Linked DNA regions of Homo sapiens: region 1 is linked to region 2. Evidence: fine-mapped expression QTL. A gene starts in region 2. The other region holds a variant in brackets. All regions are shown on one strand. Distances are from middle to middle. Region 1 overlaps SMARCA4 (SWI/SNF related BAF chromatin remodeling complex subunit ATPase 4). Region 2 holds the start of SMARCA4 (SWI/SNF related BAF chromatin remodeling complex subunit ATPase 4).

Region 1 (10,600 bases), 54 kb after region 2:
GCATATTTTTGTCTTCATTTGCATACATATCTCCAGTGTACATTGGTGTGCACCTTGTTATTTTCACTGAACCTTCCCTCTTGGAGGTCATCCTGTGTCCGTGCAGAGTGCTTCCAGTCTGGTCCTCAGCGTGCAGTGTCATACTGCGTCACGTTATATTCTCATTTTCGTAGCCTGTCCTTTGGTGACAAGCGTTTAGGTTATATTTGTCATCTTTTGCTCCTGTAACACATCACAGTTAACACAGTAATCTCTTCATTGCTTATGGTAAGGAATTAATAGATCCTGTTAAAAAGCAAGTGAGGGCTGGGCGTGGTGGCTCAGGCCTGTAATCCCAGCACTTTGGGAGGCCAAGGCAGGTGGATCACTTGAGGTCAGGAGTTCAAGACCAGCCTGGCCAACTTGGTGAAACCGCATCTCTACTAAAAATACAAAAATTAGCTGGGCGTGGTGGCGTGCACCTGGAGTCCCAGCTACTTGGGAGGCTGAGACAGGAGAATCGCTTGAAATGGGGAGGAGGAGGCTGCAGTGAGCTGAGATAGCGCCACTGCACTCTAGCCTGGGCAACAGAGGGAGACTCCATCTCAAAAAAAAAAAAAATGTAGGTGGATAAAAGTCACTTTTTTTTTTTTTTTTTTTTTTTTTTTTTTTTTTGAGATAGAGTCTTGCTCTTCACCAGGCTGGAGTACAGTGGTGCGATCTTGGCTCACTGCAACCTCCACCTCCTGGGTTCGAGTGATTCTCTTGCCTCGGCCTCCTGAGTAGCTGGCACAACAGGCGCGGGCCACCACGTCCAGCTAATTTTTGTGTTTTTAGTAGAGATGGGGTTTCACCATGTTGGCCAGGATGGTCTTGATCTCTTGACCTCATGATCTACCCACTTTGAGCTCCCAAAGTGCTGGGATTACAGGCGTGAGCCACCGCACCTGGCCAGAGTTACTTTTTAAAAGAAAAACATTCAGATTAGATTACAAATTGCCTAAGTTTTAACAGCTCTGGTTTTGTATGAACCTGTTCAGTCTGTGTTTCTTTTCACCTTTAGGCTCATGAATTGTTCTTAGAAAGGGTGGGTTCTATGATGATCAGCATCTGGCTAGGTGCAGAGTGTCTTTCTGTGCTGTGGCAAGTGACAGCATTCTATTTGTTGTTTTGAGACAGTCTTGCTCAGTCGCCCAGGCTGGAGTGCAGTGGCTCGATCTCTTGACTCACTGCAGCCTCTGCCTCCGGGCTTAAGTGTTTCTTTTACCTCAGCCTCCTGAGTAGCTGGGGTTACAGGCATGCACCACCACGCCCGGCTAACTTTTTTTTTTTTTTTTTTTGAGACAGAGTCTTGCTCTGTCGCCCAGGCTAGAGTGCAGTGGCACGATCTCGGCTCTCTGCAAGCTCCGCCTCCCAGGTTCATGCCATTCTCCTGCCTCAGCCTCCCAAGTAGCTGGGACTACAGGCGCCTGCCACCACGCCCGGCTAATTTTTGTATTTTTAGTAGAGACGGGGTTTCACCATGTTGGCCAGGCTGGTCTAGAATTCCTGACCTCAGGTGATCCACATGCCTTGGCCTCCCAAAGTGCTGGGATTACAGGTGTAAGCCACTGTGCCCAGCCTAATTTTTGTTTTTTGTAGTAGAGATGGGGTTTCACCATGTTGGCCAGGCTGGTCTTGATCTCCTGGCCTCAAGTGATCCACCTGCTTCAGCCTCCCAAAGTGTTGAAATTACAGGCGTGAGCCACCACGCCCATCAGAGTGACAGAATTCTTGTACTGTGGTGGTGCAATCAGGACCCAGAGCTCCCAGGAGTCCAGTCTGGACCCCTCAGGCTTAGTGCGGGCTGCCCTGCCTGGCCTCACACTGTCCGGCTGCACCTCTATGTGTCTTACAGTGCTGGCCACAGGTCATTCAGCAGAAAGGGCCACTCCGCAGAGCTTGTGTCAGGAGCCAGCACATTGTCACAGATAGGAATGTGTGTCCTTACCCGGCACCTCCATCTCACTCCCAGGAATGCCAAGCAAGATGTCGATGATGAATATGGCGTGTCCCAGGCCCTTGCACGTGGCCTGCAGTCCTACTATGCCGTGGCCCATGCTGTCACTGAGAGAGTGGACAAGCAGTCAGCGCTTATGGTCAATGGTGTCCTCAAACAGTACCAGGTGAGGTAGGGGGTGGGGAGGCCACCGCCACGTAGCTGCCTCGGTGCAGGTGTTCCCAGGTGGTGCGGGCTTCAGACCTCAGGCAGACCTGAGTTCACCTTTTGCTCTTTGTGGGCAATGCACTCTTCCCCTCTGAGCCTCGGTTTCCCCATGTGTAAAGCAGAGATGTGGTCTGGTAGGTTAGCTGCCAGGAGGACGTGCAACAGCAGAAAGTCAGTGTCTACTGGGTGCCCGATGTGCCAGGCAGAGTGGGAGCGATTTGCACTCCAGTGGCCTCACAGAGGAGACGGGGCCACCTGAGGAGCAGAGAGGTGCAGCACCTCCTCAGCATCGCACCGTGTGTAGGACTGAACCAGGGCCGGAGCTCAGATCTGGGCATCTGCATGCTCAGGACAGGTTACCTGAGCTCTGTGTGGTGTGAAACGGCGAGCGTCAGGAGCTTAGATCTAGGAGCCGGCAGCCCTGGACTCCGCTCTTTCTTCTGGGGATGAGGTAGCAGGTCCTGTGTGAGGGTGAAAAGTTGGTGGCTCTGAAGCTCTTCACCTGGGCCTGACTTGGGACAGTCACGAAACAGAGCTGCTCATGCTCTTAATGCGGCCTGCCATCCAGAGCTCATTACAAGGCCCCACAAGACAACCAGTACAACTCCAACCAAAGAACAGCTCTCTCTGGTTTTCAATTTGGTTGTTTCTTTTCTTTTCTTTTTTTTTTTTGAAACGGAGCCTCTCTGTTGCCCAGGCTGGAGTGCAATGGCGCGATCTCAGCTCACTGCAACCTCTGCCTCCCGGGTTCAAGTGATTCTCCTGCCTCAGACTCCTGAGTAGCTGGGACTACAAGTGCGTGCCATCACGCCCGGCTAGTTTTTGTATTTTTAGTAGAGACAGAGTTTCACCATGTCGGCCAAGCTGGTCTCAAACTCCTGACCTCAGGTGATCCGCCCACCTTGGCCTCCCAAAGTGCTGGGATTACAGATGTAAGCCAGTGCACCCAGCCCCAACTTTCTTTAAGACAACTCTTAAACCTTTTGTGCTAGTATCAACATTCAAAGCTGCACATGCACCTATAGTCCCAGCTACTTAAGAGGCTGAGATGGGAGGATCGCATGAGCCCAGGAGTTGAAAGTGGGCCTGGGCAACATAGTGAGACACTGCCTCTACAAAAATATTTTAAAAATTAGCTGGGGGTGGTAGCACACATCTGTAGTCCCAGATAGTTGGGCGGCTTAGGTGGGAGGAGAGCCCGAGCCCAGGACTTCTGAGCTGTAGCGCCCTATGTCGATCAGGTGTCTGTACTAAGTTCAGCATGAATATGATGACCTTCCAGGAGTGGGGCACCACCAGGTGGCCTAAGGAGGAGCGAATCTGCCCAGGTCAGAAATGGAGCAGGTCAAAACTGATGTGCTGATCCGTAGTGAGATAGTCCCTGTGAAGAGCCACTGCACTCCAGCCTGGGTGGCATAGCGAGACCCCATCTCTATAAAACAATAATGAAACAAAGGCAAAGCTCATGGTTAGTGGAATTTTCCAAGAGTCCCATGCAATTAAAATAATTAGAACTTGGCTAGGCGCAGTGGCTCATGGCTGTGATGCCAGCACTTTGGGAGACCAAGGCGGGTGGATCACCTGAGGTCAGGAGTTTGAGACCAGGCTGGCCAACATGATGAGACCCTGTCTCTACCGAAAATACAAAAAATTAGCTGGGCATGGTGGTGCATGCCTGTAATCCCAGCTACTTGGGAGGCTGAGGCAGAATTGCTTGAACCTGGGAGGCAGAGGTTGCAGTGAGCCAAGATCGGGCCACTGCACTCCAGCTTGGGTGAGAGTGAGACTCGGTCTCAAAAAAAAAAAAATGAATTAGAACTTGGCCAGAACTTACTTCCTCAATCCATTACGAACATTTCCAAATTTTCCTTCATAACGTTATCTTCAGTTTGCAAATAGTCTTCTGTTTAAGGCCTGTATTTCAGAAAGCTCCCAGGCTTTGGAAATCCCTCTCTTAATCTTGAAATGATGTTCAGGCAGTGAATTCCTCACGAAGTCGCCCTGAAGCCCTCTTGGTTTCCTGAGTGCAAGTGTCCCGTGGTGTGGGCAGGTTTTTCCTGTGTGCTGTGTGGGGCATGGACAGGCAGACAATGTAACAGGTGGGAGTGAGCTGTTGAGATGTGTATTAGAAATGTCACACGTGTCCATCGTTCGCACAGTCATCCTGCAGCTTCACAGACGTTATTGCTAAGGATGAGGCTAAGCGATAAAGAATCAGTTTGGTTCAGAGGAAAAATCCGTGGTAAAGGCAGTAGAGGGTGGGATGTGGCTTAGGCAGAACTCGTGGCTGGCGGTGTCTTGACTCTCTGAAGTGGGAGGACCCTCTGGTGTCCGACCCGGCCTTCAGTCCTGGCGTGGCCGCATCTGTCCTTG[C/A]AGATCAAAGGTTTGGAGTGGCTGGTGTCCCTGTACAACAACAACCTGAACGGCATCCTGGCCGACGAGATGGGCCTGGGGAAGACCATCCAGACCATCGCGCTCATCACGTACCTCATGGAGCACAAACGCATCAATGGGCCCTTCCTCATCATCGTGCCTCTCTCGTGAGTACCCGCTGCCAGCAACATCCCACACGCCGCTCACACGCTCCTGTGTTTGTTTCCTAAGTTTGCCGCAGTAGAATACCACAAACGAGGTGGCTTAATTACAGAAATTTGTTTTCCTGGAGGCCAGAAGTCCAGGGTCAAGGTGTAGCAGGTTGCTTCCTCCTGAGGCCTCTCTTCCTGCTTGCAGGGATACGTGCTTACATGTATCTCACTGTGTCTTCACATGGTCCTTCCTCTGTGCGTGTCTGTGTCCTCATCTCTTCTTCTTAGAAGGACATGGGTCAGGTTGGATGAGGGTGCATCCTAATGGCCTGCTTTAACTTCATTGCCTCTGTATTGGCCCTGTCTCCAGGTACAGTCGCATCCTGAGCTGCTGGGGGTCAGGACTGCTCCACCAGCCTCGGGGCTGTGCACAGCTCCACCCGTCACAGCCTCTGCCTCTGGGTCCCGGATCAAGTGGGGGCATGACTGTGCATCCCCTCCACCCCTGGGGAGGCCTGGGGTCCCTCTCCCGGGATGTCCTTGGTGTCCTTTTCAAGTCCCACAACCAGCAAAGTCCATGCAGGGGAGTCGCAGGAGACAAGAACCTCCCACTAGAAAAGTAGGGTGAGGCCATTGAGGCTCCATTGAACAGTCTCTACTTCCTCACTGTGCAGTGCCCTGCAAGGGCCACCAGAGCCCTCGGGCACATCCCAGCATGGCCCAGGTCCTTGGGCATGGTGGGATCCGGACACCCTGAGAGGCTCTCACTTGCCACTGCCTGGCTCCACCGGCCTTTTTCTCCCTGCAAACAGAGTCCGCCCCCCTGCCCACCTCTCTCGACATCTCTCTACCCAGCTCAGCCCCTGCACTAAAGGGGGACCTGCCTAGGGTTTTCCCAGAAAGCCCCAGGGCCGGCTCTTACTGGTCCAGTTCAAGTCACATGTCCAGCAAGCAGACAGTCACCGGCCTGGGGGTTAGTCTGGTCTGATTGGGCAAACTTCAGCATAGCATTTGGTCTGGCCCTAGAGCACAGCCCCTAACTCCAACCAGGCACTCATTGGGACCACTACAGCCACGAGTCAGCAGCGGACCCCCAACTCCTGGCAGGCTGGGGAGCGGCATGCCCATGCTCCAACCCCATGGGAAAATGCCCTTCTGCCTATAAGACAGCCAGGCCCCATGGGTCACACACCCATAGGGTAGGCCTGACGTCCTGACTGTTGCAGGGAGGACTGGAGGAAAGGTGAGGACCCCAGAACCCTCCCAGGTTTACTGTGGAACTGTTTCTTTCTTCTATCTCCCTGCTTCCTACGTGGCGGGTAGAACAGACTGCTCTGAAGGAGCAGGGCGTCCTTGTGCACAGCGCTGCAGGTAGCTGCACCTCCCCTCGTGGTCAGACCCAGATTGCTACAGCGTTCCTGCTGCACCTGCCTGAGCTCTGTCCCCTGTCTGTGTCTGGAGGCTGTTCCTTCCGGCTCTGCCCACCTCCTGGCTCCCCTCTGCCCTTCTTCCCCTGGAGGCTGATGGGTGCAGTGGCAGTCGCCCTCTGCAGTTCCCGATTTTCCCTCCTTTCACTTACAGACTTCTCAGATCACCATCTCTGCTGGAACGCCGCTCTCCAGGGTGCTGTTGTTTTGCAGCCTTGGTTCTTAGTTGTTAATTTTTTGCTTTAAAAAATTTTTTTAAACTTTTCATTTTGAAATGATCTCATTTATTTTTATTTTTTTTTATTTTTTGAGGAGTCTCGCACTGTTGACCAGCCTGGAGTGCAGTGGTGCCATCTTGGTTCACTGCAACCTCTGCCTCCTGGGTTCAAGCGATTCTCCTGCCTCAGCCTCCCGAGTAGCTGGGATTAGAGGCACGCGCCACCATGTCCGGCTAACTTTTTTGCATTTTTAGTAGAGACAGGGTTTCTCCATGTTGGCTAGGCTGGTCTTGAACTCCTGACCCCATGATCTGCCCGCCTTGGCCTCCCAAAGTGCTGGGATTACAGGAGTGAGCCACTGTGCCTGGCGACCTCATTCTTAGAAAACATTGTAGAGTTAGTGTAAAGAATTGCTATGCACCCTTCACCCATCTTCCCCATTCTTTCATAACCCCAAGACAATTATGAAAACCAGGAAGATAACATGGACGTAGGACTAATAGCAAACCAGAGGCCTTATTTACCAATCTTGTCAGTTTTCTCACAAGTGGCCTTGCTCTGGTCCAGGATCCCACACTGTCACGTCTGTGTGGCATGCCTGTGGCAGTTCCTCATTTCGTCTTTGTCCTGGTCGAGCTTGACGCTGTTGAATCCTGATCGGACCTTTGGTAGACTCTCCTTCAATTTGGGTTTGTCCGATGTGATCGCGTGGAGCAACACCACGCCCTGCTTGATGTGCCTTAGCGGGGAAGGCATGAGATGTTGAGGCCTTGGTGTCTCGGGCAAGGTGCCTGCTGGGTTTCCCACTGTAAACCTAGGAGTTACACTTTCCGTTAATAACTGTCTCGTGGGAACGTACTTCGACACTTGTGAATATCTCATTTCTCTTCCTACTTTCCTCAATAATTTCAGCATCTCTTCTACTCCATTTCATGTTGCCATAAAGGAATACCTGAGACTAGGTGATAAAGAAAAGAGGTTTAGCTGGGCGCGGTGGCTCACTCCTGTAATCCCAGCACTTTGGGAGGCCGAGGCAGGCGGATCACCTGAGGTCAGGAGTTTGAGACCAGCCTGACCAACATGGTGAAACCCTGTCCCTACCAAAAATACAAAAAAAAATTAGCCAGGCATGGTGGCGCATGCCTGTAATCCCAGCCACTCAGGAGGCTGAGACAGGAGAATCACTTGAACCTGGGAGACGGGGGTTGCAGTGAGCCAATATCGTGCCATTGCATTCCAGCCTGGGCAACAAGAATGAAACGCCTTCTCAAAAAAAAAAAGAGGTTTATTTGGCTCATGATTCTGCTGGCTGGAAGACTGGGCACCTGGTGAGGGCTTCAGGCGGATTCCACTCCTGGTGGAAGGCAAAGGGGAGCCAGTGTGTAGAGATCCCATGGGGAGGGAGGAGGCGAGGGAGGCGGGGGTGCCGGGCTCCTTTTAACCATAGCTCCCACGAGAGTTCAGAGAGCAGGAACTCATTCATCCCCCATCCCCAGTACAGTACAGGCCGTTCACGAGGGTTCACGAGGCCGTTCACGAGGGAGGCCCCCATGACACAGATGCCTCCCACCAGGCCCCACCTCCAACATTGGAAATCAGACTTCAGCATGAGGTTTGGAGGTGCCAGATACCCAAACTATAGCAGCAAACGTCAGATAAGTCTTGCCTGAAAAAATAATTACATGAGAGTTGCCAAATACATGGTTACCTGTTTCTGTCCGCTCTTCTCTACAAATTAATTGGAATTCCACCGTTAGGAAGAGCTTTCCCGTCTCCCCCATGTGCTTGTTTGGGTAATTATTATATCAGTGTGGGCGTGAACAAATATTATTTATTTTGTTGCTTCAGTTTTTTTCAGATTTGGCCTGGGAGAATTCTCCCTGGAAGAATTGTGTCTTCTCTATGTATTCAGTCATTTGTTAATATGAGTATGGACCCACGGATATTTATTTAGTACTCCAGGCTACGCACCAGTGGCTGGGTTTTTTTTGTTTTGTGGCTCAAATCCATCCAGCTTTGGCCACTGGGAGTGCTTTCAGTTGGCTCTTCTGTCCTTTGACACGCCCCCAGCATCGGGTGAATTTTGAGGACTTTCTTGCTTTTTGGCACCAAGAGATGCTGCAGGCTCATGTAGTCTATTTCCCGCCCACTCCCTCAAATCAGCCATTTCTCCAAGGAGCCCTGGTTTCCCTTCTTACAGAATGGTTTTGGGAACCAAGACCTGGGTCCTGGATGGGCCTGTTGCTTCTGGGGTGTCATTGCTCCTGGGGCCCTCTCAGTGGTCAGTGCTAGGAGATTCATGTGCGCGTGCTGATGCTTTGTGCACGTATCGTCTAAAAGGCCTTCTCTGCCTCGGCATCTGTTTCTGTGTTAAGCTGAACGTGAGTTCATACCACTGTCTGCGGCTCTGAGTGAGGACCACAGGTTCCTTCTCACACTTCCACCCTGTGTGTGCGCCCATTCTCAGCTTCCGTGGACAACAGTTTCAGAGTAGTGAGCCGGTACCTCCGGGAAGCATCTTGAGCCACTAGAGCGCAGGCCTTGGGGCCAGTTCCTTGTGTGTTCAGACCTCCAGATTGCAGTCAGATTCCATTTCCAGGGTGATAGAGGTCACCTTCTTCCCCTACTTCAGTGAGGTTGTGAGGTGGGTGCTCCTGCAGTCTTTCCCACTGCGCCCCACCTGGGCAAGCGTCCATGCTGTGGAACGCCAGCTCCTGCAGGCCAGAAGAGGGCCCGCGCGCTAGGAAATGTTTACGGCGTATGGGCATCCGGCTGTGCCGGCCCTCTCACTGGGAATTGCTGCCTCCTGCCATGAGCTGCTTGTCCTGCCTCCGTTTGGACCTCTGTCTCTGGGACCTGTCCCCTCAGTCCCCTCCTGACCCTTGCTCCTGGCTCTTCTCCCTCCCAGTGCAGATGCTCCGCACACCTCCGGCTTCTCCCTTGGTGCGCTGACTGTCCCCATCACTCCAGGGAGGTTTCACTGTTCCTGAGTCAGCGGAAGCACAGGGTCAGGCCCTACGGGCCAGGTCCGGTGGCTCCAAGATGCCATCAGGGACCCAGCCTCCCCCAGGTTTCTGCCCAGTCATTCTTGGGTGACTCCAACCCTCAGGCTCCTTACCTCATGGTTGCAGGACGGCTGCACTGCCTCCCTCGCCTCATGCAGGAGAGTGGGCAGGAAAGAGTTCTAGGAGAGTGGGCAGGGCAAAAGGCAGCAGAAGCGCAAGGCTGCTGAGCCTCTGCTCCCCACGCTTCTTCAGGAACTCTCCCCAGCCTTCACCACAGCCATGCGTCCTTCTGTCTATTGGCTGTGCCGCCTGGTTGGCTGTGGCTTCCAGCGGGGCTGGAGATGGGTTCATGGTGGACACAGCACCTCCCTCGTGGAGCTGCTTGGGGGCAAACCACGAGTAGTCCCTGGGACTCCAGCTTCGAGCCCTGTCTTTACGGACCACCCCGTCTAGACTTTCTGAGTGGCTTCCCTCCCCCACTGAAAACTCCCTGCCCCAGAGTTCCTCCCAGAGCCCGTCCCCTTTGGGACTCAGCTTTATTACCGCCTCCACCCTCTCCTCAGTCTCTAGGCTGTCGGTCTCAGGTGACTCACCCCTCCCCACTGCATTCTGCCTGCCCCCATGTCCTCCCTCATTCCAGCCCTGGTCATCCCACAGGGGAACAGCCACGAGTTGCCGCTCCCTCCCATCCCTGTCCTCCCGCCTGCCACCTGAGCCAGGCCCCGCCTCGCCCCTCACTGTCCTCGTTCTCTCTCACAGTCAGGAACCTTCCGTGGCTGGAGGGTGGCAGAAAGACTGTTTGGTGTCTCCTATATCCTCAGGTCTCCACAGCACTGTTGCTAGCCTGGCTCTGGGCGTGAAGCCTGTGCTCTGAAGCTGCATTTTCCCGGCAGCAGGTCCAGGCTTCCCCAGCCCTGGCAGCATTGTTTCTGTCCCCCATCACATCTCTGTGTCCCTACTTCTCACTCTAAAGGGCCTTGCCCTCTTTTCCCAGTGGCCTCCCTTCTGTCCTCTGAGGCAGAGCCCTTCACGTCCTCGCCAGTCTCTCTTCCTCCCTCCCTCCCTCAGCTGCCCTAAACACAGTTTCTCTGCCCACTCGGAGGGCTGTGGCCATGTTGGCCTCGCCCCTGACAGCCAGTGGCTATGGGTTTGCACAGTGAGCCATTGATGAGAGACCGGCACTTGACTCTCATTTCCTTGTTCCATCAGAACGCTGTCCAACTGGGCGTACGAGTTTGAC
Region 2 (8,969 bases):
GGTCTTGAACTCCTGGGCTCAAGCAATCTGCCCGTCTCAGACTCCCAAAATACCAGGATTACAGGTGTGAGCCACTGTGCCCAGGCACAAGAGGTCATTTTTGATGAATAAATGCACATTTTGTTAACTAATGAGTGATTTCATATTCCAAGGAAGATCTGGAGATATTACTGAAAAGGTGTTTAACTTGCAGTGGCAACTGAAGTCAATGTATTTTACATTTTCATGTTCTGGACTTGGGTGAGTTGTTATTTCAAGCCCTCATCTTTGAGTAAAAGAGAAGAATCCACCTGTAATCCCAGCCACTCAGGAGGCTGAGGTAGGAGAATCTCTTGAACCTGGGAGGTGGGAGGTGGAGGTTGCAGTGAGCCAAGATTGAGCCACTGCACTCCAGCCTGGGTGACAGGGCAAGACTCCGTCTCAAAAAACAAAAAAAAAAAAAAAAAAGAAGAAGGCCGGGCGCAGTGGCTCATGTCTGTAATCCCAGCACTTTGGGAGGCCAAGGTGGGCAGATAACGAGGTCAGGAGATCGAGACCATCCTGGCTAACACGGTGAAACCCCGTCTCTACTAAAAATACAAAAAATTAGCCTGGCGTGGTGGCGGGCACCTGTAGTCCCAGCTACTCAGGAGGCTGAGGCAGGAGAATGGCGTGAACCTGGGAGGCGGAGCTTGCAGTTAGCGGAAATTGCGCCAAAAAAAAAAAAAAAAAAATCCATTCTCCTCTGGGATGATTCCCCTCCCCCACTTCCCGTTCCCTCCTCTCCCCTCCCCTCCCCTGCCCTGCCCTCTCCTCCCCTTCTTTTTTTTTTTTTTTTGAGATGGAGTCTCTGTCGCCCAGGCTAGAGTGCAGTGGTGTGATCTTGGCTCACTGCAACCTTCGCCTCCTGGGTTCAAGCGATTCTCCTACCTCAGCCTCCCGAGTAGCTGGGACTACAGGTGCTTGACACCACACCTGGCTAATTTTTGTATTTTAATAGAGACGGGGTCTCTCTTTTTTTTTTTTTTTTAGAGACAGACTCTCGCTCTGTCGCCCAGGCTGGAGTGCAGTGGCGGGATCTCAGCTCACTGCAAGCTGTGCCTCCCGGGTTCACGCCATTCTCCTGCCTCAGCCTCCTGAGTAGCTGGGACTACAGGCGCCTGCCACTACGCCTGGCTAATTTTTTTGTATTTTTAGTAGAGACGGGGTTTCACTGTGTTAGCCAGGATGGTCTCGATCTCCTGACCTCGTGATCTGCCCGCCTCGGCCTCCCAAAGTGCTGGGATTACAGGTGTGAGCCACTGCGCCCAGCTGAGACGGGGTTTCACCATATTGACCAGGTCTCGAACTCCATATTGACCTTGCGATCCCAGAGAAAGTGCTGGGATTACAGGCGTGAGCCACCGTGCCTGGTTGAGACAGGGTTTCACCATATTGACCTGGTCTCGAGCTCCTGACCTTGTGATTTGCCTGCCTCGGCCTCCTAAAGTGCTGGAATTACAGGCGTGAGCCACTGCGCCCAGCCTGTAGATGTTTTTTTTTTAAAGTCTGGAAGCCAAGGGTGTCAATGCAGACATGGGGCCAAGGTCCCAGGGGCAGTTCATTATTAAGAACTGTGCTCTTAATTGAGACACCTGGCAAATTTTGTATTGCTTTGTAGAGATGGGGTTTCACAATGTTACCCAAGCTGGTCTTGAACGCCTGTCCTCAAGTGATCTGCCAGCCTGGGCCTCCCAAAGTACTGCCATTATAGGCATGCATGAGCTACCACAACCGGCCTGTTTTTCTTTTTTGAGACGGAGTTTCGCTCTTGTTGCCCAGGCTGGAGTGCAACGGCATGATCTCAGCTCACCGCAACCTCTGCCCGCTGGGTTCAAGCGATTCTCTTGCCTCAGCCTCCCAAGTAGCTGGGATTACAGGCATGCACCACCACACCCGGCTAATTTTGTATTTTTTTAGTAGAGACAGGGTTTCTCCACGTCGGTCAGGCTAGTCCTGAACTCCTGACCTCAGGTGATCCGCCTGCCTCGGCCTCCCAAGTGCTGGGATTACAGGCGTGAGGCACCGCGCCTGGCCCGGCCTGTTTTTCTTTACACTATTGCATATTAGTGTGATTAGCATAAAAGACAATTAGAGAACAGTCATACCATCCACTCCATGGGCAGCAACCCTGCCTCCTCCATGCATTGCTGCAGGGTATTCCTAGCTCAATGCTTAGCATTTGGAGAGAGCATAAGAAATACTATTTGGCCGGGCGCCTTGGCTCACGCCTGTAATCCCAGCACTTTGGGAGGCTGAGGTGGGAGGATCACCTGAGCCCAGGAGTTTGAAACCAGCCTGGACGACATAGTGTGACTGTCTCTACAAAAAATTTTAAGAAAATTAGCTGAGTGTGGTGTCCCACCCTTGTAGTCCAAGCTACTCGGGAGGCTGAGGCAGGAGGATCGCTTGAGCCCAGGAGGTCGAGGCTACAGTGAGTACTGATCGTGCCACCGCAGTCCAGGCTGGATGACCCAGCAAGCCTGTGTCTCAAAAACAAAAACAAAAAAACAAAAAAATAACTACTTGAATGAATGAGGAATCGAGTTCAGATCCCACTTCTACTTGCTCACTTACTGTGCACTATTCAATAACACTAGCTGAGGATCAGAGAGCTAGCAGGTGGGCTACCTGCTGTCATGATTCCTCATAACCAAACAGTGGAAGTGGGAGCCATTATTGTTTCTGGTGGGTTTTTTTTGTTTTGTCTTGTTTTGTTTTTGAGACGGAATCTCCCTCTGTCACCAGGCTGGAGTATAGTGGCACGCTCGACTCACTGCAACCTCCGCCTCCTGGGTTCATGCAATTCTGCCTCAGCCTCCTGAGTAGCTGGCACTACAGGCACGCGCCACCACAGCCAGCTAATTTTTGTATTTTTAGTAGAGATGGTGTTTCACCACATTGGCCAGGATGGTCTCAATCTCTTGACCTCATGATCCACCTGCCTTGGCCTCCCAAAGTGTTGGGATTACAGACGTGAGCCACTGGGCCCAGCATTTTTTTTTTTTTTTTTTTTTTTTGAGATGGAGTTTTACTCTCGTCACCCAGGCTGGAGCGCAATGACATGATCTTGGCTCACTGTAACCTCCACCTCCTGGGTTCAAGAAATTCTCCTGCCTCAGCCTGCCGAGTAGCTGTGATTACAGGCACCTGCCACTATGCCTGGCTAATTAATTTTTTTGTATTTTTAGTAGAAACGGGGTTTCACCATGTTGGCCAGGCTGGTCTCGAACTCCTTACCTCAGGTCATCTGCCCACCTTGGCTTCCGAAAGTGCTGGGATTACAGATGTCAGCCACCGCACCCAGCCTTATTGTTTGTTTCACAGGTGAAGAAAGTGAGGTGTAGATGCTCTGGTAAACCTGCCTGGTATTACCCATGCATCACCCAGGTAGTAGAAATGGAGTCGTGTTTTAAACCCAGGTCCTTCTGGGGCCTGGCTTGGTGGCTCATGCCTGTAATCCCAGTGCACTGGGAGGCTGAGCCAGGAGGACTGCTTGAGCCCAGTAGTTTGAGACCAGCTTGGGTAACACAGCAGACCTCAGCTCTACAGAACATAACAGACAAAAAAAAAAAAAAAAAAAAAAAGCTGGTGGTGGTGGCATGTACCTGTAGTCACAGCTATTTGGGAGGCTGAGGTGGATCCCTTGAGTCCAGGAGTTTGAGGCTGCACTGAGCTGTGGTTACACCATTGCACTCCAGCCTGGGTTACAGAGCAAGACCCTGTCTCTAATAAAACAAACAATTAAACAAAAACCCACCCAGGTGAGGTGGCTCACGCCTGTAATCCCAACACTTTGGGAGGCTGAGGTGGGCGGATCACTTGAGGTCAGGAGTTAAAAACCAGCCTGGCCAACATGGTGAAACTCTGTCTCAACTAAAAATACAAAAATTAGCCGGGCGTGGTGGCGGACGCCTGTAGTCCCAGTTACTCGGGAGGCTGAGGCAGGAGAATCGCTTGAATCTGGGAGGCAGAAGTTGCAGTGAGCTGAGATCGTGCCACCTCACTCCAGCCTGGGCAATGGAGTAAGACTCCGTCTCAAAACAAACAAACAAACAAACAAACAAACAAACAAACACACAAAAAAGAAAACACACAGAAGAGGCCAAGAGGCTCAGGGCCTTCACTCTCGGAGGAAGGTTTCTCTCTTTCACCACCAGCCTGTATGCATTCAAACGTGTTCTTTGCAACGACGACTTCCGTGGCTGCCCTATTTAAAATGTCCATGATCCTCCCAGTGTTCACCTCACACTGTACTATTTATTTTTTTTGAGACGGAATTTCACTCTTGTTGCCCAGGCTGGAGTGCAATAGTACGATCTCGGCTCACTACAATCTCCACCTCCTGGGCTCAAGCGATTCTCCTGCCTCAGCCTCCCGAGTAGCTGTGACTACAGGCGTGTGCCACCACGCCCGGCTAATTTTTTGTATTTTTAGTAAAGACGGGGTTTCACCGTGTTAGCCAGGATAGTCTCATCTCCTGACCTCATGATCCACCAGCCTAGGCCTCCCTAAGTGCTGGGATTACAGGCATGAGCTACCGCGCCCGGCTAATTTTTGTATTTTTAATAGAGACGGGTTTCACCATGGTGGTCAGGCTCGTTTCTAACTCCCGACCTCAGGTGATCCGGCCGCCTCGGCCTCCCAAAGTGCTGGATTACAGGCGTGAGCCACCAAGTCCGGCCTCTCATACTGCACTATTTTGCTTATTAATCTTGCTTCTTGTCCTCCTTCCCCACTAGACCGAGGGCTCCACGGCGGCTGGGACACAGTAGCAGATCAATAAATATTTGCTAAGCTAATTAATGGCACTTGGGAAGTTTTGCAGAGAAGGCGGCCACGGTCGGGCCCCGCCTTGCCTCCCCAAATAGGCCTCGCCGCCCCAGGTCAGGGATCAAAGCGGTTCCCAGGCGCGCCCTTGGCCCGCGGGAAACCACTGCCCGGTCTTGGTCCAGGCGGCCCGTCCTACGGTCCAGGGTTCCTATTTCCGAGCCTCAGGGACCTCCTTTCCCCACGGACCCCACGGCCACCGGGATCCCATTCTCCAGTTGCCCCATCGTCACCGCGGCCGCCGCCACCGCCGCCGCAGTGGCGTCCGCTCTGCGCATGCTCCGGGGCGTCAAGACGCGAGGCGTGCAGAAGGCGAAGCGTGCGCAGGCGCGGGGCCATCGCGGCCCGAGTGGGGCGGTGCATCGGACGCGCGTGCTTCCTCCGGGCCACGCCCACCCCCGTCCGCCCAGGGACGGGCGCGCACGCGCGCCGGGAGCGGAAGGGCGGGCTGGCGCGCGCACGAGGCCGGGCAGGCGGCGGAAGCTGGAGAGGCCGCCGCGGTGCTGAGGGGGAGGGGAGCCGGCGAGCGCGCGCGCAGCGGGGGCGCGGGTGGCGCGCGTGTGTGTGAAGGGGGGGCGGTGGCCGAGGCGGGCGGGCGCGCGCGCGAGGCTTCCCCTCGTTTGGCGGCGGCGGCGGCTTCTTTGTTTCGTGAAGAGAAGCGAGACGCCCATTCTGCCCCCGGCCCCGCGCGGAGGGGCGGGGGAGGCGCCGGGAAGTCGACGGCGCCGGCGGCTCCTGGTAAGGAACGCGGGCCGCGGGGGCAGCGCGGCGCGGGGCCGGGGAGGGCGGTTTGAATGGAGCCGGGGCGCCGAGGGGGGAGGGGGCTGCCGGCGCGCCCTGTGCGGGGCCGGGGTACGGCGGCGCCCGAGGGTCAAGAAGCCCAGCCGGCAGCCGCGCGCGTGGGGAAGGCCACAGTGTCGCGAGGCCGTGGCAGCGGCGGCCCCCGCGGAGCGGCGGGGTGGGTGGGGGGCCCGGGCCGCGTGGAGGCCGCGCGATCCTCTCCGCGCGCGCTCTCGCCGGGGTCGCCGGACAAAGCTCGCCCCCCTCGCCCGGCACCCCTACAGTCGCCCTCCCAATTACAGCGGCTGCAACAATAGGCAGGCGTTGGGGCTTTTCTGGCTGCGTGGTAACGGGTCCGACCCGAATGTTGCGTTTTTGGCGAAGCTGCGATCGGGGCTCAGCCAAACCTCCAGATATGTCCGGCGTCGGCCGGACACGGGCATTAGCGGTCCCCTTGGGCTAGCCGACCTCAAATTGTCTTAAAAACGTGTCATTCCAGATTTTCAAGGAAAGGTAAAGGACTCCCCCGATGCCTTGCAGTTAGTGACTTCAAAATGTTTGCCCGAATTGGGGTTGGGGATGGGGTCGGCGGCAAGTAGGGGAGCACGGAGGAAATCCTTTGCTGTGTAAAAGCATTGCTTTTCTTTTGCATCCTTTTTTCTCCTTCCCAATTGGTTTTTCAGATTAAGGCTTTTATTTTCAACGTGGACCTTTTGGGCGAGTGTTTTGTCCCGATCTTGAAGATACCAGTCTTGATTTTTTTTTTTTTTTTTTTTGGTCAGTGACTCCTTGGGGAAAGTAGCAAGGGAATAAGCGGAAAAGCCGCTTCGCAGGAATTTGAAGCAAGTTTTCAGTTTGGATTGATAGGCTGCATTCAAGCTTGATTCCTGGTGCTGTCAGTCACTTAGCACACTGTCACTTTAGGGAAGTGGCTTAACCTCTCTGAACCTCTTAGTTTTCCTCCTTTGTGAAAGCTCCTTTGTGAAAGGGGGTAATCTCCCAAATGGAATTGGTGAAAGCCTGTAAAATGGTTCCTCGCAAGCGGGAAGCACTATTGTAATTGTCTGGTCCAATCTCCCTCATTGTTCAGCAGATAACTTCTTGAGGCCCTACTAAGTGTTGGATGGTCGGGGGTTGGATCCTGGAGCCTCTGCAGTCTTGGAGGGGAGCGGGTGGTAAATGTGGGAACAAACTCTCTTGGCCTATCGTTTATTGCTCTGAACCTGCACTGTGAGAGGGACACAGCGGACAGGCAGGGGATCGGTGGTAGCCAGAGATCACGGGGGCTGCTTGGAAGAGGGGGCCTCAAAATCAGGGAGGGTGTGTAGGATTGTATTTTGTTTTTGAGGCAGAGTCTTGCCTGTCGCCCAGGCTGGAGTTCAGAGTCCCAATCTCCGCTCACTGTAACCTCCGCCTCCTGGGTTCAAGCGATTCTCCTGCCTCAGCCTCCTGAGTAGCTGGGACTACAGGCGCCCGCCACCACGCCTGGCTAATTTTTGTATTTTTAGTAGATATGGGGTTTTACCATGTTGGCCAGGCTGGTCTCAAACTCCTGACTTAAGGTGATCCACCCACCTCGGCCTCCCAAAGTGCTAGGACTACATGTGTGAGCCACTGCGCCAGGATTGTATTTTGACTTTCCCTGGCCACCTCGGACTAGCCATTGTTCCCCTCAGCTACATTCATACATCAACTTGGTCCTTTCCGGTGTAGCTGTCACCCCCAGCACCGTGAGAGCTGGGGTTGTGTCTGCCTGGCTGGCCCCACAGTACCCTGGGCCTGACACATAGTAGGTCTTTAGCGAACTTATGTGGATTGAATGAGGGGGTCCTGTGGAAGATCGCGTGACCATCTGTGTAAAAGGCTTGGTGCAGGGCCAGGTGCAGTGGCTCATACCTGAAATCCCAGCACTTGGGGAGGCTGAGGCGGGAAAATTGCTTGAACCCGGGAGTTTGAGACTAACCTGGGCAACATAGTGAGACCTCATCTCTACAAAAAATACAAAAATTAGCCGAGTGTGGTGGCATGCACCGGTGGTCCCAACTACTCAGGAGGCTGAGGTAGGAGGACTGCTTGAGCCAGAGAGGTGGAGGCTGCAGTGAGCCATTCTTGTGCCCCTGCATTCCAGCCTGTGCACCAGAGTAAGACTGTCTCAAAAAAAAAAAAAAAAAAAAAGAAAAAGAAAGCTTGGTGCAGGACTGGGGGTGGATTGTAAGGGATACAGGTTAGTTGTTTGAACAGTTTTTGCACTTTCCAAGCCATTGTTTCCTGAACCTCAGTTGTCCTCATCTCCCCTACAAAGTGTGGGGTGGTGGTTAGCGTGGGGTGGTGGTAAGGAGTACTCATTCTGGAATCAGACCTCCTGAATTCACACCCAGCTCTCTAAATCGTAGCTTAACCTCAAGCGAGGCGCTTAGCAGTAGGGCCCCCCACTTGTGAAACAGGTAGGACGAGGATGCCCGAAACTTCACAGGCTTCTTGTGAGGGTTGAATGAGGTCACATGGGAAGCCGCTAACACACTGCTGCACCTGATGCGTAGTGAACACTTGATTTTTTTTTTTTTTTTGAGACGGAGTCTCGCTCTGTCATCCGGGCTGGAGTGCAATGCCCCTGTAGTCCCAAGCTCCTTGAGAGGCTGGGGCAGGAGGTACAGGCTGCAGTGGACCATGATTGAGCCACTGCACTCCAGCCTGGGTGACGAAGCGAGACCCTGTCTAAAAAAAGGAATAAAAATTAATTCATGCATAGTTAGGAAAGTAATAAATGGTTTTGCATGGGCCACCTAAAATCATTTTGTGTCCAGCCCTTTAGGAGACGTAAATGTTGATCGTGCAGGCTTTTGAGCAGGGGAGGTGATGTCATCAGAATTGTGATATAGGGCAGTGCAGTGGTCTCTAAACTTCTTGTCAGTGAGGAGCATTCCAACATATGTGTATTTATTTACAATTTATTTGTGTACCTTTGCTTCTCCTTGGGAACCCTCAAAACACCAGGAGATAACCTTAGACCATTCCATGTTTTGGCTGTTTGTGGGAGGTGGGAGCATGGGAGGGACTAGGGTTTTGGGCAGATGTCTGGTGGAACTTTCTTTCTTTCTTTCTTTTTTTTTTGAGACGGAATCTTACTCTTGTTGCCCAGGCTGGAGTGCAATGGCACGATCTCGTCTCACTGCAACCTCTGCCTCCCGGGTTCAAGCGATTCTTCTGACTCAGCCTCCTGAGTAGCTGGGATCACAGGTGTGCACCACCACACCTGGCTAAGTTTTGTATTTTTAGTAGAGATGGGATTTCATCATGTTGGCCAAGCTGGTCTTGAACTCCTGACCTCAACTGATCCACCC

The links. PIP is the estimated chance that this variant, and not a neighbour inherited with it, causes the effect. A credible set is the group of variants that fine-mapping cannot tell apart.
Region 1: its variant is the best candidate, but not a certain one, in a credible set for the expression of SMARCA4 in whole blood (TOPMed, PIP 0.88).

The regions. Positions count from the first base shown.
Region 1 is chr19:11,008,388-11,018,987 of GRCh38, forward strand. It overlaps SMARCA4 (SWI/SNF related BAF chromatin remodeling complex subunit ATPase 4), which reads left to right. Exons shown (of 35, transcript NM_003072.5): 15 at 1,994-2,144; 16 at 4,562-4,725; 17 at 10,570-10,600. It also overlaps the pseudogene RN7SL192P. Among named protein-coding and RNA genes, the nearest start is that of SMARCA4, 53 kb to the left of the region's middle. RefSeq lists an enhancer at 1,463-1,963. The variant C/A (reference allele first, on the strand shown) is at 4,559.
Region 2 is chr19:10,955,589-10,964,557 of GRCh38, forward strand. It overlaps SMARCA4 (SWI/SNF related BAF chromatin remodeling complex subunit ATPase 4), which reads left to right and starts at 5,442. Exons shown (of 35, transcript NM_003072.5): 1 at 5,442-5,586. RefSeq lists silencers at 5,170-5,589, 5,640-5,699, 5,750-5,809 and an enhancer at 8,327-8,456.